Linked DNA regions of Homo sapiens. The gene in region 1 interacts genetically with each later gene. Each region holds a gene or a part of one and is shown on either strand. Other genes may lie near its edges.

Region 1 (3,059 bases):
AGAAGCTTGGCAAAGGGCCTGGCATAATGAACATTCCCAATAAATGTTAGCTAGTTGGTCTTTGCTGCCTACTTGCTGTGTGACCTCAGGGAGGTTGCTTCCCCTCTCTGGGCCTGTTTCCTTCTACCTGGAGCATGCTGGACCAGGACCAGACAGGTCAGCCCTTGGACCATGGATTCTGAGAATCCTGGTCCCTTACAAAGTCCTTCCGTGCACATGTCCGCACCTGTCATGCTGGTCTGCCGCCGTTTTCGACCCTGAGAGTCTCCAGGTCCACCTGGGGACCCTTCAGCCTGCTCCCCTGAGCGAGGCACAAGGGTACAAGACAGTGACAGGTCCACATGGTCTTCCTCTGCTGTCCCCTGCAGCAGAGCAGGTGAGGTGCCAGGCCGCCTGCCTCCTCCCAACTCATCCCGGCCTCGCCGGGGCCCCGTGGGAAGGTAGAGCTTGGGCAGGCCAAGGCCCCGCACACGCTCCCAGGCGAAGTCACCCTCCAGTGGTGTCTCGGTGACAAAGTCGAAGTTCCATCGCTCACGGGCCTCCTGGATGCAGCCCGCCATTAGCGCATCACAGTCGCGGCTCAGCTGCTCGCTGTCCACTGGGCCGAAGAGGCGGCGGCAGGCCTTGCTGCCGCATGGGTTCTGACGGACATCCCCAGCCGGTTCTGACATGGCGCCTGCAGCAGAGATACAAGGAAGGCCCTGGTCACGGCGGAGATTAGACACTATGTTACCTGGCCGGGCTTTGCTGTGTCACCTCAGGTGACGTCTTCCTACCAGAGGGTCTCTCTCACTCCTTCCAGCTGGTCTTCCTGCTTCCTTCCCACAGGAGGCCTGACCCCCACCAGCAGAGCTCAGCCAGCCTGGCACACCAAGGTCACTGGGAGAGCAGGCAACTGAAGGGCAAGCTAATGTCAACAAAGGCAAGTCTATTGCAAGAGCAAGGACCAGGGTCCTGTTTGCCACCAGGTATTATCAGCTAAAATCAATTTGTTTTCCCCCCAGAGGTGTCCCTCATGGGTGTGAATGCCCCCCAAATATGTGTGAATTGCCAGAGTCCAGCAGTTTCCTAATCGCAGCCCTGGCCAGAAGGTCAATTCCCAAAAGAAGAAACAGTCTGACAGTTCCTCCAGCCTCCTAAGTCCCCCGACCCAGATCCCCAAGTAGGGTAACCCTGCTCTGCCAAGTAAAAGTACCCGGGACTTTGGGGCAAAAAGCACCCGGGTTGTGGTCCTAGCTCTGCCAGTTACTACGTAAGCTTTAAAAAGCCACTTAATGTCTCTAGGTCTCAGTTTCCTCATCCATAAATGGGGCCATGTACAAGTTTAAAGAGCATGGCTACAGACACATACTCAAGAAATTGATCACAGAGTCCATGCAGCAAGGCAGACAGAACAGAGCTGAATGAAAGGCTGTATCCTGGTGGTTAAGCAGGAGGGCTCTGGAGCCAGATCACCTGGGCTGGAGTCCAGGTTTTACTAGGTGACCCTGGGCAAGCAACTTAACTTGTCTGAGCTCTAGTTTCCTCATCTATAAAATGGGGATAGTAATAGTGACTGTCTCAGAGGATAGACATGAGAATTAACTGAGTTAATGTAGGTAACGTGCCAGCAGCACTTCGTATAGAGAAGTGCATTGAAAACAGAAGTATGATTATTCCTCTCTGCCTTCAGTTTTACTGAGCCTCCCCCCTATCACTTCCCCCTGCCAACTACCTCCTTCAGACAGCAGCTGACAGGTGCTGTAGGCTGAGGGCCTTTCCCAAGGATGTCGTCAGGCGGGTGGCCTAGGGGTAAGGAGGGGCCGGGCGGGGCAGCGCAAGGGATGATTTCTCCCAGGCTGAGCCACATCCTGCCAGGCACATCAGGTGATCTGAAGTCTAGACACCTGGCAGCCCCTGCCTCGTGTTGCCTGTGTCCAAGGAAACCGTTTTGCAGGCAAAAAGAAAATTAAAGGTGGCTGGTCTACCTGGCTCCTCTCCTCCCCCTTCAGGAGAGGGAAAACGGAGAGTGAGTTTGCCCATGAGGGAGCCCTGGCACCTACCTGCCTGCTCTGGCTTGACTCCAGGGCTGAGTGACTGCACGACCTTGGCAGCAACTGGATTTTCCTAGGGACAAGTCCCAACTTGCAGTTTCTGGGGGTGAAAGCTCTGCTGAGTCCTCATGAGGCAGGAAGCCCGGGACACATGCCACATCTGCTCCACCCCACCTCACCCCACTGCTTGTGATCAGTGGAGCCCACAGTTTCACGTCCCAGCTGGTTGGGAGAGGAGGCTCTTGGTAACTTCACACCAAGTTTAAAGGGCAGGAGATGGAAGAGATATGAGACTTGCCCCTGAGTCATACAGCTAAAAAGGCCAAAGGCCACTGCCCCATAAAGGGGTCACCCAGTACAGTGGACAGAGCCCTCAAATAACCTCTATCCACCCTCTGCTAGGCATGAGTTGGGATTTATTTATATATTTTTATGTTTGGGGGCTGTTCTAAGCAGTTTAAAAATATCAATCCTCCTAAAAAGTGGATATCTATTAGCTCCCTTTTTACAGAAGAGGCAACCAAGGCTCAGATAAGTTAAGTAACTTGCCTAACATCACACAGTTCATAAGTGGCACAGCCAGGATCTGAACCCAGGCCTGTTTGCCCTGAGTCCTGTGCTGTAGTATTGAACCCCACTCCCTCTCTAATTTTGAGGTTTCTTAACCAGAGAGGCCCATCACAATCACTTGGGGAGGCCAGGGGCAGTGGCTTATGCCTGTAATCCTAATACTCTGGGAGGCAGAGGTGGGAGAATCATTTGAGCCCAAGGGTCCAAGACTAGCCTGGGCAACTAGCTGAGACCCTGTCTCTACTAAAAATAAAAATAAATAAAAATTAGCTGGGTGGTTGGGTGCAGTGTCTCACACCTGTAATCCCAGCACTTTGGGAGGCCGAGGAGGGCGGAGCACGAGGTCAGGAGATTGAGACCATCCTGGCTAACACGGTGAAACCCCGTCTCTACTAAAAATACAAAAAAAAATTAGCCGGGCATGATGGCAGCACCTGTAGTCCCAGCTACTCGGGA
Region 2 (3,500 bases), on another chromosome or scaffold:
CTCCCAAAGTGCTGGAATTACAGGTGTGAGCCACCGCGCCCAGCCAAACTCCTTTTAACCACAGGCAAATGGTTTAAGCTACGTGCTGCAGAGGAAGCTGCTGCCCATCCCTCATGAGCAGCTAACAAAGGCCCCAAACCACTGAGCTTCAAGAGAAAATCAGCAGATACTCTTGGCTCTTGTGTACCAGATACCTTTCTAGATACTGAGGGAGAAGAGCAGTGAACAAAACAGACCAAAAAATCTCTGCCTTCATGGAACTTACATTTCGGAGTGGACAGGAGATCGAGACCAGCCTGGCCAACATGGTGAAATCCCGTCTCTACTAAAAATACAAAAATTAGCCAGGCGTGGTGGCGGACACCTGTAATCCCAGCTACTTTGGAGGCTGAGGCAGGAGCATCCCTTGAACCCAGGAGGCAGAGGTTGCAGTGAGCCGAGATCGCGCCAGTGCACTCCAGCCTGGGCGACAGAGTGAGACTCCATCTCAAAAAAAAAAAAAAAAAGGTGACTGGGTGCGGTGGCTAACTCCTGTAATCCCAACACTTTGGGAGGCCAAGGCAGGTGGATCACAAGGTCAAGAGGTCGAGACCATCCTGGCCAACATGGTGAAGCCCCATCTCTACTAAACATACAAAAATCAGCTGGGCGGTGGCACGCGCCTGTAGTCCCAGCTATTTGGGAGGCTGAGGCAGGAGAATTGCTTGAACCCGGGAGACGGAGATTGCAGTGAGCCTGAGGTCACGCCCTTGCACTCCAGCCTGGTGACAGAGTGAGATTCTGTCTCAGAAAAAAGAAGGTGCTTCAGAGGAAAATAAGGCCAGTGGTGGAGCTCCCAGGCAGGCTGGAGGAACAGTAGTGGGGCTGCAGGGGCTGGCGTGGGGTGAACAAGGGGCAGAGCAGCAGTAGGGGCCTGTAGAGCTGTAGGCCTCTGAAGGACTTGGGGCCTCGGGCTTTTTCACCAAGGGCGAGGCAGTAAGCAGCCATTGGCTGGATATTGAAGACCATTCAGTCCAAGTAGAGGATAGAAACAGGGCCCCGAGGCAGGAGCAAGTTCAGCCTCTTTAAAAGCCACAGAAAGAAACAAGCCCACTTATGTAGAAGGAGGTGAGTGAGGGAGCCTGGCTGAAGAGAAGGCTGGGGTGGAGAAAGCAAGGGGAAGCTGGCTCATATAGTGAAAACTTGCCACAAACTGTGGTGGTGAAGGTGCTGGGCAGGACTCAGATGCTAGGATTGTTGGAGAAAGGAAAATTGGGGAAGAGACCATCTACTGGCACTGGCTGTGAGTGCTGCTCATGTGGCCAGGAACTTGCAACTCAGCACTGATTGTTTCTAAGAATAAATGTCAAGTTGGGAAGATGTGTATAAGGGGGACTTAGACCACAACTGCTGCTTTGACTGCGTTGCCTTGTTGCTGTGCTGGAAAAGCTAACCCTGCTTTGGCCTTCCTTCCCCTGACTAGGTGCCGGTATGTGAGAGAGAGAGATCGCCTGGGTAATGAATACCCCAAACTCCACTACCCTGAGCTGTATGTCCTGAAGGGGGGATACAAGGAGTTCTTTATGAAATGCCAGGTAAGACTGGGGTTGTGGAGAGCATCTCTCCTCCCCTGCCCCCAGTGGTAGACTAATGGATCTGTCTGGTGGTCATGACTTTCTTTCCAGGGGTCGGGGGACAAGGTGGGTATCTGCTGAACCCAAAGAAAGCCCCTGTAGAACTGGCTCCCTAGGTCTGCCTGGCCGCTTTCAGCCTTGTAGCCCTAGGCAGAGAGGAAACCAGGTTGTGGGTGTGAGGCAGGTGTACCCTAACCTTATTCTCTCCTGTCCCCTCAGTCTTACTGTGAGCCCCCTAGCTACCGGCCCATGCACCACGAGGACTTTAAAGAAGACCTGAAGAAGTTCCGCACCAAGAGCCGGACCTGGGCAGGGGAGAAGAGCAAGAGGGAGATGTACAGTCGTCTGAAGAAGCTCTGAGGGCGGCAGGACCAGCCAGCAGCAGCCCAAGCTTCCCTCCATCCCCCTTTACCCTCTTTGCTGCAGAGAAACTTAAGCAAAGGGGACAGCTGTGTGACATTTGGAGAGGGGGCCTGGGACTTCCATGCCTTAAACCTACCTCCCACACTCCCAAGGTTGGAGCCCAGGGCATCTTGCTGGCTACGCCTCTTCTGTCCCTGTTAGACGTCCTCCGTCCATATCAGAACTGTGCCACAATGCAGTTCTGAGCACCGTGTCAAGCTGCTCTGAGCCACAGTGGGATGAACCAGCCGGGGCCTTATCGGGCTCCAGCCATCTCATGAGGGGAGAGGAGACGGAGGGGAGTAGAGAAGTTACACAGAAATGCTGCTGGCCAAATAGCAAAGACAACCTGGGAAGGAAAGGTCTTTGTGGGATAATCCATATGTTTAATTTATTCAACTTCATCAATCACTTTATTTTATTTTTTTTTCTAACTCCTGGAGACTTATTTTACTGCTTCATTAGGTTGAAATACTGCCATTCTAGGTAGGGTTTTATTATCCCAGGGACTACCTCGGCTTTTAATTTAAAAAAAAAAAAGAAGTGGGTAAGAAAATGCAAACCTGTTATAAGTTATCGGACAGAAAGCTAGGTGCTCTGTCACCCCCAGGAGGCGCTGTGGTACTGGGGCTGCTGCTATTTAAGCCAAGAACTGAGGTCCTGGTGAGAGCGTTGGACCCAGGCTTGGCTGCCTGACATAAGCTAAATCTCCCAGACCCACCACTGGCTACCGATATCTATTTGGTGGGAGGTGTGGCCCTGTTCTTCCTCACCCCAGTTCCATGACATTGGCTGGTATAGGAGCCACAGTCAGGAAAGCACTTGAGGCAGCATCTGTTGGGCCACCCCCGGCTCAGTGCTGGAATGTTGCAGTGTAGGTTTCCCAGGGAAGGGGGGTGGGGGTAGGTGGGCTCCACAGGATGGGGGAGGAGCATGTCCACTGAGTATCTTCCTTATGTTGCTGTGATATTGATAGCTTTTATTTTCTAATTTTTAAAAAATGGTCATATTATGAGTCAAAGAGTATCAAATCAGTGTTGGATGGACCACCCAAGGGTGAGGAGAGGGGCTGGAAGCCCTGGGCATTAGGAGAAGGGAGTGGGTGCTGGCATGGACATGACTGGATAGAATTTTCTCAGGAGGGAGCTTGGTGGATTTTGAAGGTAAAACTTTCTGGGTTTATCATGTTTTAATTTTAGAGACAGGGAGTGATGAATCATCACCGGTTGTCCCCTTATCTAACTCCATAAAAGTGGGAATTTCAAAAGAACACCTCATCCAAGGAGCTGGGGCAGACTTCATTGATTCTAGAGAGACCTGTTTCAGTGCCTACTCATCCCTGCCCTCTGGTGCCAGCCTCCTTACCATCACGGCTTCACTGAGGTGTAGGTGGGTTTTTCTTAAACAGGAGACAGTCTCTCCCCTCTTACCTCAACTTCTTGGGGTGGGAATCAGTGATACTGGAGATGGCTAGTTGCTGTGTTA

The links. A genetic interaction does not mean that the proteins touch.
Region 2: changes in CDKN1A (region 1) and CDC25A together harm fitness more than expected from each alone (negative genetic interaction), as found in Homo sapiens cells (one large-scale study listed by BioGRID).

What each region holds. Positions count from the first base shown.
Region 1 is NC_000006.12:36,681,714-36,684,772, reverse strand, and holds part of CDKN1A (cyclin-dependent kinase inhibitor 1), read right to left. Parts: intron 677-3,059; coding exon of another isoform or gene 672-676; coding exon 227-671; coding exon of another isoform or gene 128-226; intron 1-127. UniProt on the Homo sapiens protein: Plays an important role in controlling cell cycle progression and DNA damage-induced G2 arrest. Involved in p53/TP53 mediated inhibition of cellular proliferation in response to DNA damage.
Region 2 is NC_000003.12:48,157,418-48,160,917, reverse strand, and holds part of CDC25A (M-phase inducer phosphatase 1), read left to right. Parts: intron 1-1,462; coding exon 1,463-1,574; intron 1,575-1,832; coding exon 1,833-1,973; 3' UTR 1,974-3,500. UniProt on the Homo sapiens protein: Tyrosine protein phosphatase which functions as a dosage-dependent inducer of mitotic progression. Directly dephosphorylates CDK1 and stimulates its kinase activity. Also dephosphorylates CDK2 in complex with cyclin-E, in vitro.